Linked DNA regions of Homo sapiens. The protein of the gene in region 2 purifies or fractionates together with the protein of the main gene of each other region. This does not show direct contact. Each region holds a gene or a part of one and is shown on either strand. Other genes may lie near its edges. The genes, in order: LRPAP1, GMIP, ACAD8 and PPIL4.

Region 1 (4,411 bases), on a different chromosome or scaffold from region 2:
TGTGTGGCCTCCCTGGACGTGTGTGAGCCACGTCATCTCACAACCAGGAGGCAGGTGGGATGACAATGAGGGGCTGGCAGAGGTCCCCCTAGGAAGGTGGCCTTGCTGTCCTCACCACCTGCAGCCGGGAGAGCCAGGCAAGCCCGGGGTCACCGGGCTGCTGCCCTGTCCCCCTCCTTGGGATCTTCTGCTCCCCACCCCAGCCAGCTCGGTAGCTGTCCCCTGTTGAGCCTGGACACGTCCAAGAGAAGGGTGGTTGCCTGCCGGCAGCTCTTCTCCGGTTTGTTTTTTGTTTTCCTGCCCTTCGTGAGGCCAAGAACCTGGCCTGGCACTCACGTAGGCAAGGGCCTGCCTGGCCATGAGGAGTGGTTGGCTGAAGAGCGGCCCTGGCCACACGAGCCCGCGGCGGGTTCACTCCAGGCCTTGTTTCCCTCTTAGGCGAAGACCTCTGGGAAATTCTCCGGCGAAGAACTGGACAAGCTCTGGCGGGAGTTCCTGCATCACAAAGAGAAAGTTCACGAGTACAACGTCCTGCTGGAGACCCTGAGCAGGACCGAAGGTGCCCCCCGCCCCCACCCCCTCCTGCCCTCTGCCCCACCCCCTCCTGCCCCCCACCCCTCCTGCACCTGAGGCTCGTTGTGCTCAGTGGGCAGCCTCAGCTCCCCTCAGGAACACAGCAGGGGCAGGGAGGCGGCACCAGACGCCCTCCCAGGGTTCCACCGGACTTGTGAGTGGGGAGGTTGCTGTGCAGGCAGGCTCTGGGAGTCGCCTGCCTGCATTGGATGAACCAAGTCTCACCGGCGCCTGCCCCCACTATGGGCACAGCTGCTGCCTTTGTCAGACCTGAGCTTCGCTGATGGGTCCTTCATTCTGGACTCGTGACCCTCCCCAAATGTGTGACTTTCCCACCCCACAAAGCTGGAGTAAAATGGAGGGTGACCCAGCAGAGAGGGGGCAGGGCAGGGGTCCAGAGTCAGCCCCCAGGGGACCTGGTGCCCCAGCTGTCACCGCCAGGCGCCACTTGGTGCGCGTGTCCCGGCGTCTCGCCTGTCTCGCCTGGAAAGGAAGCTGTGCCAACGGTCGTTTCTGCGGCGCTGCAGGACCGCGGAAGGGGGACATTTTCAGCCCAGAAATGAGAGCGAGTTTGAGCTCCCCAGCAGTGGGCGTTCTAGACAGTGGTCTGGGCAGGCAGTGCGAGGACTCCCAGCCTCATGGCGTCCTGCCTTCGGTTTTACAGAAATCCACGAGAACGTCATTAGCCCCTCGGACCTGAGCGACATCAAGGGCAGCGTCCTGCACAGCAGGCACACGGAGCTGAAGGAGAAGCTGCGCAGCATCAACCAGGGCCTGGACCGCCTGCGCAGGGTCAGCCACCAGGGCTACAGCACTGAGGCTGGTGAGTGCCCGCCCGGGACTGTTGGTTCCCGAGGGTGGGGCCGTCTCTGGTTGTGTTTTGGGGACAAGCAGGCAGGTGCTTGTAGCGACGGGAACCTGGGCCTGTGGACGCAGCGGAGACCCTCGGCGCGCTCAGTCTACCCACGGGTGGTCACAGGCCTCGCTCCCAGGAGCTGCTCCGTGAAGGTCACTCGCCGTCCCCAGCCTTGTACCTGGAGACTAGCAGAGGGCAGTGGCGGCAGCGGGCCTGGGAGCAGCCCTTCCCAGCGTCTCCCCAGCCTCAGCAGCACGGCCCCTCCCGTGCTGCTGTTGGCCAAGAACAGAGACCACTCGTCAAACATAGCTCCGTCTCCATCTCATGCCACCCACACCGTCCATCAGTCCCCCTCAGCCCGGCAGGGGCAGGACGCCCGCTGAGGCCACAGAGCTTGTGGCTCCGTCTCAGCAGCTCATCTCCCTCCACTGCAGGCCCTCAGTGGCCAGGCTCTGCACCACTGCTTCTTGCCCCGTACCCGGGCCAGAGCCTTGTGCAGGGTGTACCAGAAGCCTGCTGGCCTCACTCACGCAGCTTCCGATTCTGTACCTCATCCTCCACGTGCACACTGAGCACCAGCTGCACGCCAGGCACTGCTCTAGGCTCGAGGAGACAGCAGCCGCCAGGAGATGGCATCTGTGCCCTCATGGTGATAAGACAGCAGGGCTGGTCTCTGTCCCCGGTGCCAGGCAGAGCCACCGCCTCGTCTCCAGGATGGTCTGCCCAGAGGCAGCCTCCAGCACAGCAGTCAAATGTGTCCACGCGGGCCCAGGTCCCCTTGGGTGGCTGTGCTGCTGTCACCTGAGTGCCCTTGGGCAAGACCCCTCACCACCCACCCCCAAACCCAGGCTCCCTTAGCCTGACCTGGTGCTGGTGACTGTCAGCCGTAGGCTTTTGGCCGTAGTGCTGGGGGCTGGACCACCTTGTAGGCCTGCGATGCAGTTTGCTGAGTTCCTGTGCTGGAGAGACCCGGATGAGCCTGGCTATAGTCCATGCAGGAAAGGGCGACTCAGCCCCACACACTTCTCTTCCCACCTCGGGCTGTCCCCAAGGCAGTTGTGTCCAGCGGCTCCTGCAGTTCTCTTGCGGGTCTGCCTGGGCCTTCCAGCAAGCCCCACCAGCCCAGGGTCCTCGGGGTCCTGAGCAGGAAGGGGTCAGCAGAGGAGGGAGCAGGGGCCACTGTTGCGGGGCTCCATGGGCAGGCGGCTCTGGACTACTCACTCCTGGTTGGAGAGTGGTGACAGCCCCGGAGTCTCTCACTGCGTCCCTTCGTGAGCACCAGGGTCCAGGAGCCGTCTTGGTTTGTTTGGCTCCTCCCAGGAGCCCGAATGTTTGACTTTCACGAGCACAACATCCTGCTGGAGACCCTGAGCAGGACCGAAGGGAAACGGCCTGTGCCTGCGTCTGGACCTGGCTGAACTTGCAGGTGCCCCCACCCGAGGTCCTGGCAGCCTCTGCACACAGGCCACGTCCATCCTCTGCCTCCTGCTTCAGAGGCAGCCAGGGCGGGCTGTGGCGCTTCCCAGGCTCTGATGGAGGCAGGTGTTTCTGGACACAAAGGAGAAGCAGTTGTTTGGCCAAGGGGACAGAGAAGCCACATTTCAGCGAGGTCATGTGAGCTACTGAGCAGATGCCCTCTGTGCCCCATAAGACTTTGAGTGCACGCACCCGTGTTTCACACACATGCAGGTCGCGCCTGCAAACCCTCATAGGCTCCACGCACACTCAGCGTGGTTGCCGCGGGGCTGGCTGTGGTGTGCACCCCGGGTGCTGCTGAGGCCACTCTTGCTCCTCCCCTGCAGAGTTCGAGGAGCCCAGGGTGATTGACCTGTGGGACCTGGCGCAGTCCGCCAACCTCACGGACAAGGAGCTGGAGGCGTTCCGGGTAAGGAAACACGGCCCTCTCCTTCTAGCTCTCTCCTGTGGTGAAGATTCTCTTGCAGTTTCCGGGTAAGGAAATGCAGCCCTCTCCTCCAAGCTCTCTCTCTCAAGATTCTCGCAGTTTCTTCCTTAACCACTCGGTGAACCTGCTTGCGTTTTCCTTCTCATCTGCGTGGGAACTCGTGTTTCAGGGGCGGGGCCAGGCTCTGGAGGGAGGGGCTTTGGTTCTTTTGTCCGTGTTCACGTCTGAGCGTGGCCTTGGTGCGGGTCCTGTGGATGGTCAACAGTTGGTCGGGACCCAGCCACAGCCTGGGGGGAGGGGACCAAGGACACTACCGGGATCGTTTAGGGGTGTCACCACTTCCTGAGATGGAGGCCCAGGGAGGGAAGGAGACCACCTCAGGTGGCAGGGGCTCCTGGGGCGTGTGGAGTGCCAGATCATTCTGAGGGTGGAGAATTCATCAGCTCGGTGAGCACCCAGCAGGGCTGTGAGGAGTGGGGAGTCCATCGGGGGTCCTGGGTGGGCAGCCTTGAGTATGGTATCCGGCCATGAGTTCACCCAGGGTCCCTATAGCTGGTGTCTGTTGGGAGGGAGGTGGGTGTGGTCCTGCCCTCATAGGACTTGGGACTTTCCTGGCCCCAGGAAGGGCCCTTAGCACCTCCCCCAGAAAGGGGTCAGGAGCTTCCCTCTGGGGCTGGGGCACCTTAGCTGGCCGCAGGCACGTGCATGGGGCTTGGCAGGTGGGGCCACATGGAGGGCCCTGGGTCTGGAGCGTGGGGTCAAGGCAGGGCAGGGCACCTACAGGAGCAGGGACAGAGCTGCAGTCCAGCAGCAGTGGAGCCCAGGCAGGCTGGGGGCAGGGTGCAGAGGCAGCCACCACAGAAGCACAGCCCCTGGACATGGGGTCTGGCTGGGAACGAGCTGGAGGCCCCCTAGATTCGGGGGGCGGGGGTGCCATTTGCAGAGACAGGGAAGGGGTCGGCTTAGGGCTGCCAAGGAGGCGCGGGCTGGGACCCGTTGCTAGTGTGATGGCCTCCCAGCTGCCGCCCCCTCATTGCCCATGTCACCGCAAGGCCTGTCCTGCCCCGGGTATGGCGCCG
Region 2 (4,411 bases):
TCCAGCCTGAGCGACAGAGCGAGACTCCGCCTCAAAAATAAAAATAAAAAAACCCATCAAACACAGGCCGGGCACGGTGGCTCATGCCTGTAATCCCAGCACTTTGGGAGGCCGAGGCGGGCAGATCACCTGAGATTGGGAGTTCGAGACCAGCCTGACCAACATAGAGAAACCTCGTCTCTACTAAAAATACAAAAAATTAGCCGGGCATGGTGGCGCATGCCTGTAATCCCAGCTACTCAGGAGGCTGAGGCAGGAGAATCGCTTGAACCCGGGAGGCAGAGGTTTTGGTGAGCCAAAATCGCGCCATTGCACTCTAGCCTGGGCAACAAGAGCGAAACACAGTCTCAAAAATAAATAAATAAATAATAAAATAATAAAAAATAAAAAACAAAAAACAGTGAATCTGTAAAATTGCAACCAGGACAAGTGATCCCAAAGTAGTGTTTGGGGAGCTGTGAGGCTGTAGGACAGGTGCCACTGGGCTGGTCTGGGGGCTTAGGGAAGACATCCATAGCAGACTAGGGTGCAAAGGTCAGAGGTCCATCCATCTTCCCCAGGGGAGGAACTGGACTTGCGGCTCATTCGGACAAAGGGGGGTGTGGACGCAGCCCTGGAATATGCCAAGACCTGGAGCCGCTATGCCAAGGAACTGCTTGCCTGGACTGAAAAGAGAGCCAGCTATGGTGAGGACCTCTTCCGCCCAGCCCCAGTTACCAGGCAGTCCCCAGACCCCAGCTAGACCCAGAGCCCGGCTCTCTCTTCCCCCAGAGCTGGAGTTTGCTAAGAGCACCATGAAGATCGCTGAAGCTGGCAAGGTGTCCATTCAACAGCAGGTAGTCATGACCAGACCCCCCCGGAGAGCCCAAGCCCCCTAGAACCCCACCTTTGTCCCCCACAGATCTTCAGTATCCTCCTACACCACTCTGTCTTCCCCAGAGCCACATGCCTCTGCAGTACATCTACACCCTGTTTCTGGAGCACGATCTCAGCCTGGGAACCCTGGCCATGGAGACAGTGGCCCAGCAGAAAAGAGACTACTACCAGGTGAGGGGGGCAGGGTGGAATGTTACAGAGGTCACCCTGCTATCCTGCTGTCCTTCAGGCCTGATCCCCTCGTTTCCCAGCAAGCTGGGAGGAAGGCACCACTACCAACGTCGCCATTTCATTGATGAGGAAGCTGAGGCCCGGGGATGCTTGGGAACTTGCCCAAGGTTACCCAGCAAAGATTCAAGCTGGGCTTCCTGTGCAATTGCAAAACTTCACTTTACTTTTTTTCTTGAGACAGAATATCTTGCTCTTTTGCCCAGGCTGGGGTGCAATGGTGCGATCTCAGCTCACTGCAACCTCCGCTTCTTGGGTTCAAGCAATTCACTTGCCTCAGCCTCCTGAGTAGCTGGGATTACAGGCGCCTGCCACCACGCCCGGCTAATTTTTGTATTTTTAGTACAGATGGGGTTTCACCATGTTGGCCAGGCTGGTCTCCAACTCCTGACCTCAGGTAATCCACCTACCTCAGCTTCCCAAAGTGGTGGGATTACAGGCGTGAGCCACCACGCCCAGCCAAAAACTTCGTTTTTGTTTGTGGGGAGGGGAACGAGGTGCTGAGTGTTCTCAGGAGGAAAGCCTTGGTGTCTCTGCTTCCAAGCAGAAAGGATGGGGTGACTACATGAGACTTCTGGACTCAGGGGTCGGGGAGAGCAGGTCTGGAGAAGACCCCAGGAGGAGAATACTGACTCAGAAAAGGGTCCAGCCTGGCACGGTGGCTCATGCCTGTAATCCCAGCACTTCTGGGGGCCAAGGAGGGAGGATTGCTTGAGCCCAGGAGTTTGAGACCAACCTGGGCAACATAGTGAGACCCCCTGTCTCTACAAAAAAAAAAAAAAAGTTTTTTAATTAGCTGGGCCTGGTGCACATGTCTGCAGTGCTAGCTACTAGGAGGCTGAGGGTGGAGGATTGCTTGAGGCCAGGAGTTCGAGACTAACCTGGGCAACATAGTGAGATCCCTGTCTTTATCTACCAAAAAAAATTTATTTATTTATTTTTTTTTTTGAGACAGAGTCTCACTTTATCATCCAGGCTGGAGTGCAGTGGCATGATCTCAGCTCACTGCAACCTCTGCCTCCCGGGTTCAAGTGATTCTCCTGCCTCAGCCTCCCGAGTAGGTGGGACTATAGGAGTGTGCCATCACATCTTTATAATTTTTGTATTTTTGTAGAGACGGGGTTTCACCATGTTGGTCAGGCTGGTCTTGAACTCCTGGCCTCAGGTGATCTGCCCACTTTGGCCTCCCAAGTGCTGGGATTAAAGGCATGAGCCACTACACCTGGCCAACCAAAAAAAAAAAAAAAAAGAAGAAATTGTTTTTTAAATTAACTAGGCCTAGTGCACATGCCTGTAGTCCTAGCTACTGAGAGGCTGAGGCTGGAGGATTGCTTGAACTCAAGAGTTCAAGTTCAATGCTGCAGTGAGCCATGATTGCCCACTTGCACTCCAACCTGGGCAACAAGAGCAAAACTCCGTCTCGAAAAAAAAAAAAATAGAGTCCAGAGGTGGCAAAGCACATGGCGCAGGAATGGAAGGACTGGGTGGCTGCTTCTGGGTTGGCCCTAAGGCAGCGTCTCCATCCCCATCCCCAACCCTTGCCAGCCCCTCGCCGCCAAACGGACTGAGATTGAGAAGTGGCGGAAGGAGTTCAAGGAGCAGTGGATGAAGGAGCAGAAGCGGATGGTGAGGCTTGGAATTGGTGGAAGGGTAGGGTGAGAGAGAGGCCGGGACGCTGACCTTCTCATCATCCCCCAGAATGAGGCGGTGCAGGCACTGCGGCGCGCCCAGCTGCAGTATGTGCAACGCAGCGAGGACCTGCGGGCACGCTCCCAGGGGTCCCCTGAGGACTCGGCCCCCCAGGCCTCGCCGGGACCTAGCAAGCAGCAGGAGCGGCGGCGGCGCTCGCGAGAGGAGGCCCAGGCCAAGGTGGGCACCCGGCCCCGAGCCCCTGTAGCGCTGTGGCGCCCCCTGCCCTCCACTCTCGCCCACACGCGCCCCACCCCGCTCCTGGCCTCCCGTTTCCCCAGGCGCAGGAGGCCGAGGCGCTGTACCAGGCCTGTGTCCGCGAGGCCAACGCGCGGCAGCAGGACCTGGAGATCGCCAAGCAGCGAATCGTGTCGCACGTGCGCAAGCTGGTGTTTCAGGGGGATGAAGTGCTGAGGCGGGTGAGGCCCATCCCCAAGGCCATCCTCCCCTCACCCCGTTGGGGCCCCGACTGAGTGCCCCACTCCTCGCCCCTAAGCCACCCTGGAGACACCAGGACTAGGCCATTTCCCTCGACAGCCAGTTCCCGCCCCCAGACCCACTGTCTCGGCTCCGCCCCATGAGGTCCTGTCCCCTGGATGACCAGCCCCTGCTCTGACCATGCCTGGGTCCCCTGGCCGACTGCCCTAGTTCCTAAGCCGCCCAGGTGCGTCCCAAACCCTGACCACGTTCGCGTCTCTCAAGCCCCGCCCCAGCTCTGGCCCTGCCCCCAGGCTCCCAGGCTCCGCCCCTCCCCAACCTGCTGTCTCCACCCGGCAGGTGACGCTGAGTCTCTTCGGGCTGCGGGGGGCGCAGGCAGAGCGTGGCCCCCGCGCCTTCGCCGCCCTGGCCGAGTGCTGTGCGCCCTTTGAGCCGGGCCAGCGCTACCAGGAGTTTGTACGGGCGCTGCGGCCCGAGGCCCCGCCGCCCCCGCCGCCCGCCTTCTCCTTCCAGGAGTTCCTTCCCTCCTTGAACAGGTGGGTCACTGGAGCAGGGAGTCGGGAACGAGCCCCGGAATCGCGATGCCAGGCTGTTGGCACCGCAGGCTGGTTACTCGAGGTTAGAGAACGCAAAGCCTTAGTGGAATTTAGTACTCCAGGCTCTCGGGGGCCATAGGAGGGTGAATGGGTTGTCCCAGTCCTAGGGGCAGGGGCAGGAATGTGGGGCTACTGTATTTCAGGGGCCACAATGCCCTGGGTGTCAGGGTTTGCAGACCCAAGTGCTTGGAGTTGGTACCTAGACATGATGCCTGGGTGCCATCACCCCAGGCCAGTTTCCTGGGATTCAAACCTTCAAACTTCTGTCTTCTCAGCTCCCCTCTGGACATCAGAAAGAAGCTCTCTGGGCCTCTTCCTCCAAGGCTGGATGAGAATTCAGCTGAGCCAGGCCCTTGGGAGGATCCGGGCACAGGCTGGCGCTGGCAAGGTGAGTGCAATGAGGGCCAGGTGGGAGTGGTGCCAGGAGTTCGTTCCACCAACACATAGGTGGGCTGCAGGAGTGGGGTTTGTGAGCAGGGGACCATCCTTATTGACCTGTGCCACCTAGGGACTCCAGGCCCCACTCCGGGCAGCGATGTGGACAGCGTGGGTGGCGGCAGCGAGTCTCGGTCCCTGGACTCACC
Region 3 (4,392 bases), on a different chromosome or scaffold from region 2:
ACCCAAGACTTAGACCCACAAGAACTTAAAATGAGGAAAAAGAAAAAGTTCAGGTTTAAAGGCCTGTCAGCACTCAGAAAGATACCTGTTTCAGCTAAACATTTTCTAACTTATTAAGAGAATCTACTAATGTCTACTCTACCTGACTAACCTACAAACACTTCTCACAACTTCTTTTAGGATTGTGACACCAACTGCCCCCAATTTCAGTGCCTCTAATTGAAAACCACAAACTATCTACAATCTCCCAGTTCCTCTCTGGCTCTGAAAATAGACTGCCTTTACATCATTTCCTTGCTCTCTTTTGTTGATAGGATAAACTCCATTTCTAAGCCTTTTACTGAAGGTCTTCCTGCCCAGGAGTTAGCATGGGCTTCACACACAGTAGAAGCCTAGGAAATGGTTGCTGTGTTACCAAAGAGAAGGGGATGCTAAAATGCATAATGCCTTACAGTTACAGAGGATCAGGAAGGATCCTGTAGGAAAATACAGAAACCCGAGGAGCTGTGAGAAAGAGGTACACTTAGGGGTCATTTCATTACCTGCCTTCTCTCACAAAGTCCCCCCATAACAGTACAAACTAGAGAGAGATGACTGCTTTGAGCATCTGGTCTAAAAAATCTGAATGGGTCTTGAGCCCTTATTACCAATTACGGTTACATGATCACAAGTCTCCTGTTCATGCCCTGGCCATGGCGGCTCTTAATCCTAGAAGTATCTTACTTTTCAAATTACTTACAGTACCTAAGTGTCCTTCTTGGGTTGCTGAAATACCCACAATCATCTCCAATGAGTTTTACTTTATTTTTAATCAAAGAAGCAAAAGGGACCACACGCCTTCCATTACTGAGACTTGTGGCCAACACCAGGTCTTCTCTAAGCGTCTCTTCCTGGAGCAACAAAGTGCACCAACGTAAGCAGCTGGATAAGGAACACAGGCCAAAAGCAGAGGCAGGAGAGGTCAGAACACTCACAGGTGGCTTGAAGAATTTACTGGCAAACATTGTCACTTTCCCCAGAGGCCTAGTGTTTAATAATGCCCTGTTGTATTTCATATGCTCCTGTTGAAAATCCTAATAGAAGCAACTGCTTCAAAGGTAGGTTAGCAAGTATGCAAACCTGTTTTCTGAAATAGAGCAGGAGTTGGGCTGGCAGGTGGCAGAGTCTCATAACCTGAATTGTTTCCTGTCCAACAGCCACTCACCTTTTTCTCCTTCTTGCCAAAGCTGAGGCCAGGGGTCCCCTTCTCAACAACTATGCATGAGATGCCCTTGGGGCCTGGTCCTCCTGTTCGGCACATGACCACATAGATGTCTGACTCACCAGCACCACTGATGAAGGCCTGTGGGGGTAAAAGGGGTGCAAAAGGACCAGGGAATGCTTGAGTTCTCACAGCGTCTGGGAACACCACTGGGTCCTCCTGACAATAAGGTCCAATGGCACAGAGACTGACAATAAGGTCCAATGGCACAGAGACTGACAATAAGGTCCAATGGCACAGAGACTGACAATAAGGTCCAATGGCACAGAGACTGACAATAAGGTCCAATGGCACAGAGACTGACAATAAGGTCCAATGGCACAGAGACTGAGGTGAGGTAAAAGGTCGCTGCAGTGACTGCAGATCAGAGAGGCAGTCCAAGAGAGTATAAAAAGGATAGACAAAAGTCAACGAAATGATCTGGAATCAGATTAGGAGAGATACAAACAGTGAGAATAAAGAAAGAGAAATGGGTCAGAGGTTCTCTTCCCAACACATAAAAATCCTATGGGAGTATTAACCCGCGGATGTGAAGGAACCAGAGGATGTCAGGAGGAAGCTGGGAACAATCTCCAAAGTGCTCTGGGAGGACGCACGCTAGTACCTTGGAGCCATTGAGGATGTAATGATCTCCCTGTTTCTTAGCGGAGGTCAGAAGAGAGGCAGCATCACTCCCACTTCCTGAGGAGGGATCAAAAGGCAGCAGAGAGAAGGTGAGAAAGTCAGTGAGGTCGAGGGAGCCCAGCACAATTCTATCTTCTAGGAAATCTTCTCTAAACAGACCCTGCTCAGAGTGTGTCACTGCAAAACCCAAGTGGCCAAAGGAACTCTCTGTACTTGGTGGAAACTGCTCATACCAGTCAGGCCACTGCCTACCTCCCAACACACCAGATAGGCTTCTTGGTCCTTGTGACATCAGGTCACAGGACTCTATTACTCCTCAACCAAACAGCTAGATAAACAGTGGCTCGACATGTCAAGAGGCTGGAAGGAGTGCTCGGTAATGCCATCTGAGCAGGAAGCATCTCTCCCTGCTATATCTCAGTGCAGTGTGGCAAATTCACCTGGTTCAGTGAGGCAGTAGGAAGCAAACTTCTCCATGGTACAGAGCGGTGGGCAAAATTTGTGCCTCTGTTCCTCATTTCCGAAGCTATCAATCATCCAGGCACACATGCTGATAGGTACACCAAGAAGAAAAGACAATGACAGAAATAAAGATGGAAAAGAAAAAAAAATGGGGGAGAAGGGGAAAGAGAACAAAGGGCAGGGCAGTGGAGTAAAGCAGAAGAGTGGGAAGGGGAGAGTCACAATTGGGAAGACTCTTTAAAGGCAAACGGTGGATTAAAACATATTCCTGGAATAAGGACTACCCAGAGATAACCAGGCTGAGGTACTTCTCACCAGCACGTTTGTACTACTTCTAGTTAGGTTACACGAGCCTCTAAAAATCAGAGTTATATGTGCTTTCTATTAGTAGTTTCTATTACTTCCTCAAATCACTGGCAGTTCCATCTTTGGATTGAGGAAAAGGGTGAGAGGGGCCGGGTGCGGTGGCTCACATCTGTAATCCCAGCACTATGGGAGGCCGAGGCAGGCAGAACACAAGGTCAGGAGTTTGAGACCAGCCTGACTAACATGGTGAAACCCCATCTCTACTAAATATGAAAAAAAATTAGCCAGGTGTGGTGGCACGTGCCTGTAATCCCAGCTACTCAGGAGGCTGAGGCAGGAGAATCACTTGAACCGGGGAGACGGAGGTTGCAGTGAGCCGAGGTCATGCCACTGCACCCTAGCCTGGGCAACAGAGCGAGACTCTGTCTTAAAAATAAATAAATAAATAAAAGGGTGAGAGGACCCTGATCACTCTATTGGAGAAGTCTCCTGGTACCAGCTCAAAATAAGATTTCTGAGAAAGCTGGCTGACCTGATTCCCTAAGCAATACACAGGATGACAGAATCAAGTCCAACAGGCAGCAACAGACCTAGCGTGTACTTATTTTATTTATTTATTTTTTTTGAGATGGAGTCTCGCTCTGTCGCCCAGGCTGGAGTGCAGTGGTCCATCTCGGCTCACTGCAAGCTCCGCCTCCCGGGTTCACACCATCCTCCTGCCTCAGCCTCCCGAGTAGCTGGGACTACAGGCGCCAGCCACCACACCCGGCTAATTTTTTGTATTTTTAGCAGGGACGGGGTTTCACCACGTTGGCCAGGCTGGTCTCAAACTCCTGACCTCGTGATCTGCCTGCCTTGGCCTCCCAAAGTGCTGGGATTACAGGCACGAGCCACTGCGCCCGGCCCCTAGAGTGTACTTTTAAGTCCAGTTCCTTGAGGACACTCAGCTTCAAAAGATCAATCTTTTTCCTACGAATCTGAACTCTCACAGTCAGCCCGAGTGAGCACTTCATTGTGCCTTCCAAGCTTGGGCACTCACTTGTGGATGCTTATATAGGCTGTGGTGCTGGTGCAGCCTGTAGCCAAGGCTTCAAAAATGACAGAGGTATCAAGACGTGACAGCCCAGACCCGCCCACATCTGTTTGTATGTAGACCCCTCCGAAGCCTAGCTGGGCTGCCTTCCGCATCACATCCACTGGGAACAGCTCCTATGTACAAAAGAGAGCAGGGTGATCAGCAGCTGATTCAGAGACGGCCTTCCTTTTAGAGGGCACAGTGAGGGATTAGGAGGCTTGCACATGCGACAGCGTATGAATTCTCTTAATATGCCTGTTTGTCATCTTACAGTGGTTATCAGTTAACATGGGTCCTGTAAAAACTTGTTCTGGCATTAAGAAGTTTCTTTTTATTATCTATAGAACTGCCTTAGTTTTATATCCAAATCTTTATTCAACTAACAAAAAAAAAGTTATGTACAAGATGATCAGGATGCCTTCTAGGAAAAATCATCCACTACCGGTATTCTCACTTGCAGTAAGAGTTGGTAAGTGGAGGAGACATTTAACAATTACATTATCAGGAGACAAAGATAAAGGTCTGCCTGAGACATCTGTTGTTAGAACGTCTAAGCACAAGAAAAACGCCTACCTTCTGGTCCCACTCTGCCATATTTGGAGCCATCTCTCGGGCAGCAAAGTCAAAGGCCACTTTTTGAAATTCTTTCTGCTCTTCATTAAGT
Region 4 (4,411 bases), on a different chromosome or scaffold from region 2:
GTTTATTTATTTATTATTTTATAGAGACAGGGTCTCACTCTGTTGTTCAGGCTGGAGTACAGTGGTGTATGATCATAGCTTGCTGCAGCTTCCAACTCCTCAGCTTAAGCAATGCCCTTGCCTCAGCCTCCTGAGTTGCTGAGACCACAGTCACACACCACAATGCCCTGCTAATTTTAAAATTTTTTTTGTAGAGACAGGATCTCCCTATGTTGGCCAGGCTTAAGTTTATATTACCATCAACTGTCTGAATGAACAAATAGTAAAGGCTGTATAGTTCAAGAAAGCTTTACTGAAATTAAAAAAATTAATTGAAAATACACATTTTAATGAGCACACTGTGTATCTCAGAGTATTGACTCTGAACACCCAACACCAAGACAAATTCTAAGAGAATTACTACACTTGAAAGATATGTTGAACAATTGGGCAGAAAGAATAAGTTACTTATAAGGGAATGAATTTAGATTGTTATCAGACTTTTCCACAGCAACACTTTGGAAGTTTATGCCAGAAGAAAATAGATTAACATACTTTTTAAAACTTTTTGTTTTCAGATAATTTCAAATTTATGGGAAAAAGTACATAGAACTTCTATATACCTTTTACCCACATTCACCAATTTTTAACATTTTGCTACATCTGTTTTATGATTCTCTCTTTTTCTCTCTCTCTGATTATACAAGCACATAAACACACATTTTTTTTCTCGACTATTTGACAGTAAGTTGCCTGTTATTTCCCTTTACCTCTTAATCAGTGTGTATTTCCTAAGAGCAGCAGTATTCAATGTGTATAACAATATGTACGTATTCACAGTGTAGTTACCAAAATCAGAAAATTTAGAAGTGACAGAAATTACAGTTTATAGGGCCGGGCACAGTGGCTCACGCCTGTAATCCCAGCACTTTGGGAGGCCGAGGCGGGTGGATCACGAGGTCAGGAGTTCGAGACCAGCCTGGCCAACATGGTGAAACTCCGTCTCTACTAAAAATACAAAAATTAGCTGGGTATAGAGGCATGCGGCTGTAATCCTAGATACTCAGGAGGCTGAGGCAGGAGAATCGCTTGAACCCAGCAGGCGAAAGTTGCTGTGAGCCGAGATCGCGCCATTGCACTCCGGCCTGGGCAACAGGGCGAGACTCCGTCTCAAAAAAAAGAAAAAAGAAATTACAGTTTATATTCCAATTTTGCCAGTTGTTCTAATAATATCTTTTATAATTGTTTCCTCCTCCAGACTAGAATCCAGCTCGTGACTTATCATCTGTTGCATTTATTTTGTAGAATATTTTCCTTTTTTTTTTTTTGAGACGGAGTTTCTGTTGCCCAGGTTGAAGTGCAATGGCATGATCTCGGCTCACTGCAACCTCCACCTCCCAGGTTCAAGCGATTCAGCTGCCTCAGCTTCCCAAATAGCTGGGATTATAGGTGCCTGCCACCCACGCCTGGCTAATTTTTTTTTTTTTTTTTTTTTTGAGACAGAATCTCGCTCTGTTATCAGGCTGGAGTGCAATGGCACGATCTTGGCTCACTGCAACCTCTGCCTCCCGGGTTCAAGCGATTCTTCTGCCTCAGGCTCCCGAGTAGCTGGGATTACAGGCGCCTGCCACCACATCCAGCTAATTTTTTGTAATTGTAGTAGAGACAGGGTTTCACTGTGTTGCCCAGGCTGGTCTCCAACTCCCGACCTCAGGCGATCCTCCTGCCTTGGCCTCCCAAAGTGCTGGGATTACAGGCATGAGCCACCGTGCCCGGCCAATAGAATATTTTTCAATTTAGGTTTATCTACTCTTTCCTCATGATTAGATTCAGGTTATGCACCCACAGCCGAAATAGTACGTGAGTGATGTTGTGTCCTCAGAGGTCACATCTGGAGGTGTACGATATTCATTGGAAGATGAGTAATTTTGGTCACTTGGTCATGGTAGTCCACTGCCTGGTGTCTCCAATAGACAATCTGTGGCTAGACACTTGGAGATCTTTCAAATGTCTTGTTCCTTGTCAAATTTCCCCCATAAATTTCTCAGCCATTCATGATTCCTGACTGCACCAGTTTTGACTCTGCTAAGTGCAAAGTGGTAATTATGCAAAGTGGTAATTTCCCACCCCCACCACTTTTTCCACAATTACCAACCTGCATTCTACTGTAAGGAAGAGCCCTCCCTTCTTTTTTTTTTTCCGAGATGGAGTCTCGCTCTGTCACCCAGGCTGGAGAGCAATGGCGCAATCTTGGCTCACTGCAACCTCTGCCTCCCAGGTTTAAGCGATTCTCCTGCCTCAGCCTCCTGGGTAGCAGGGATTATAGGTGCCCGCCACCACGCCCAGCTAATTTTTGTATTTTTAGTAGAGACAGGGTTTCACCATGTTGGTCAGGCTTGTCTCAAACTCCTGACCTGGTGATCTGCCTGCCTCGGCCTCCCAAAGTGCTGGGATTACAGGTGTGAGCCACTGTGCCCGCCTGAGCCCTCCCTTCTTAACTGCTTATCTATCCGTTCATTATCCGTGTCTCATGGATTCTTTTTTTGGCTTTGTTTTTAATAGACAATTTGTAGAGCAATTTTAGAATTACAGAAAAACTGAACATAAAGTACAGAGAGTTTCTAAGTACTCCCTCCCTCTTTCCCCCAGTCTTGCATTATTGTGACACATTTGTTAACAATTGATGAGCCAATATTGATACATTATTAATTAAAATCCATGATTTACGTTAGAATTCAAGCTTTGTGTTGTACATTCGGTGGAACTGACAAATGTACGATAGCATATATCTACCCTTACAGGATCATTCAAGGTAGTTTCACTGTCTAAAAAATCCCCTGGGCTCCACCTGTTCATCCCCACCCCCAACACCCACTTCTTGGCAACTACTGATGTTTTTACTGTCTATATAGTTTTGGCATTTTCAAAATGTCATATAGTTGGAATTATAGCGTATGTAGCCTTTTCAGACTGTCTTCTTTCACTTAGCAATATACATTTAAGGTTCCACTGTGCCTTTTTTCTTTCTTCCCTTTCCCTTTCTCCTTTCCCTTTTTCTTTTTCTTTCTTTTCTTTCCCTCCTTTTTTTTTTTTTTTTGAGACGGAGTCTCGCTCTTGTCGTCAGGCTAGAGTACAGTGGCATTATCTCGGCTCACTGCAACCTCTGCCTCCCAGGTTCAAGAGATTCTCCTGCCTCAGCCTCCTGAGTAGCTGGGACTACAGGCACGTGCCACCGCGCCCGGCTAATTATTTTGTATTTTTAGTAGAGACGAGGTTTCACCGTGTTAGCCAGGATGGTCTTGATCTCTTGACCTCGTGATCTGCGCGCCTCAGCCTCCCAAAGTGCTGGGATTACAGCATGAGTCACCCTGCCCGGCCCTTTTTTTAATTTTTTTTAATTTTTTTTTATTTGAGACAGGTTCTCGCTCTGTTGCATGGACAGTGGCACAATAATGGCTCACTGCACCCCGACCTCCAGGGCTCAAGTAATCCTCCTACCTCAGCCTCACAAGTAGCTGGGACCACAGGCGTGTGCCACCATGCCCGGCTAATTTTATTTTTTGTAGAGACAGAGTCTCACTATGTTGCCCGGCCTGGGATTTCATTTCTTTCTTTTTTTTGTTTTTTTTTTTTAGAGAAAGTCTCACTCTTTCACTCAGGCTGGAGTGCAGTGGTGCTGTCATAGCTCACTATAACCTTGAACTGAGGTTGAGCAGTCTTCCTGCCTCAGCCTCTTGAGTAGCTGGGACTATAGGCACACGCCACCACACCTTGGTAATTTTTAAATTTTTTTGTAGAGATGGAGTCTTACCCATGTTGCTCAGGCTGATCCCAAACTCCCAGGTTCAAGTGATCTTCCTGTCTTGGCCTCCCAAAGTGTTGGGATTACAGGCGTGAGCCACCATGCATGGCTGATAGCTCATTTCTTTTAATTGCTAAGTAATGTTTCATTGTATGGATGTATCACAGCTTGTATATTTTTTACCTGTTGAAAGATACCTTGGTTGCTTCCAAGTTTTGGCAGTTGTGATTAAAGCTGCTGTAAACATTTGCATGCAGATTTTTGTGTAGGCATAAAGTTTCTATGCATTTGGGTAAATACCTAGGAGTTCAGATGCTGGATTGAATGGTTTAGCTTTGTAAGAAACTGCCAAACTGTCTTCTAAAGTGGCTTTACATTTTACATTCCTACCAGCAATGAATGAGGGTTTCTTTTGCCTCACATCCTTGCCAGCATTTGCTGATGGTATTTTTTGGATTTTAGTCACTCTAAAAGGTGATCCTGTGTCCTTTTGATTTTATTAACATATTCCATGTTCTGTTTTCTAAGAATATCTGTTTCTCTTACTTTATTGCATTTGTTTGTAATATAGTGATAATTCAGCTAGTGTTTTGTAAAATTAGTTTTGAACCTCATAGCTTTTATGAATGT

Evidence for each region.
Region 1: the proteins of GMIP (region 2) and LRPAP1 purify together in Homo sapiens (affinity purification with mass spectrometry; one large-scale study listed by BioGRID and IntAct). This does not show direct contact.
Region 3: the proteins of GMIP (region 2) and ACAD8 purify together in Homo sapiens (affinity purification with mass spectrometry; one large-scale study listed by BioGRID and IntAct). This does not show direct contact.
Region 4: the proteins of GMIP (region 2) and PPIL4 purify together in Homo sapiens (affinity purification with mass spectrometry, with the first as the bait; one large-scale study listed by BioGRID). This does not show direct contact.

The regions. Positions count from the first base shown.
Region 1 is NC_000004.12:3,515,019-3,519,429, reverse strand, and holds part of LRPAP1 (alpha-2-macroglobulin receptor-associated protein precursor), read left to right. Parts: intron 1-438; coding exon 439-559; intron 560-1,237; coding exon 1,238-1,396; intron 1,397-3,231; coding exon 3,232-3,314; intron 3,315-4,411. UniProt on the Homo sapiens protein: Molecular chaperone for LDL receptor-related proteins that may regulate their ligand binding activity along the secretory pathway.
Region 2 is NC_000019.10:19,636,721-19,641,131, reverse strand, and holds part of GMIP (GEM-interacting protein), read left to right. Parts: intron 1-560; coding exon 561-686; intron 687-771; coding exon 772-836; intron 837-939; coding exon 940-1,047; intron 1,048-2,649; coding exon 2,650-2,730; intron 2,731-2,802; coding exon 2,803-2,973; intron 2,974-3,074; coding exon 3,075-3,212; intron 3,213-3,570; coding exon 3,571-3,767; intron 3,768-4,102; coding exon 4,103-4,215; intron 4,216-4,335; coding exon 4,336-4,411. UniProt on the Homo sapiens protein: Stimulates, in vitro and in vivo, the GTPase activity of RhoA.
Region 3 is NC_000011.10:134,256,558-134,260,949, reverse strand, and holds part of ACAD8 (isobutyryl-CoA dehydrogenase, mitochondrial), read right to left. Parts: coding exon 4,302-4,392; intron 3,863-4,301; coding exon 3,693-3,862; intron 2,436-3,692; coding exon 2,326-2,435; intron 1,943-2,325; coding exon 1,866-1,942; intron 1,343-1,865; coding exon 1,205-1,342; intron 922-1,204; coding exon of another isoform or gene 877-921; exon of another isoform or gene 786-876; intron 1-785.
Region 4 is NC_000006.12:149,528,428-149,532,838, reverse strand, and holds part of PPIL4 (peptidyl-prolyl cis-trans isomerase-like 4), read left to right. Parts: intron 1-4,411. UniProt on the Homo sapiens protein: PPIases accelerate the folding of proteins. It catalyzes the cis-trans isomerization of proline imidic peptide bonds in oligopeptides.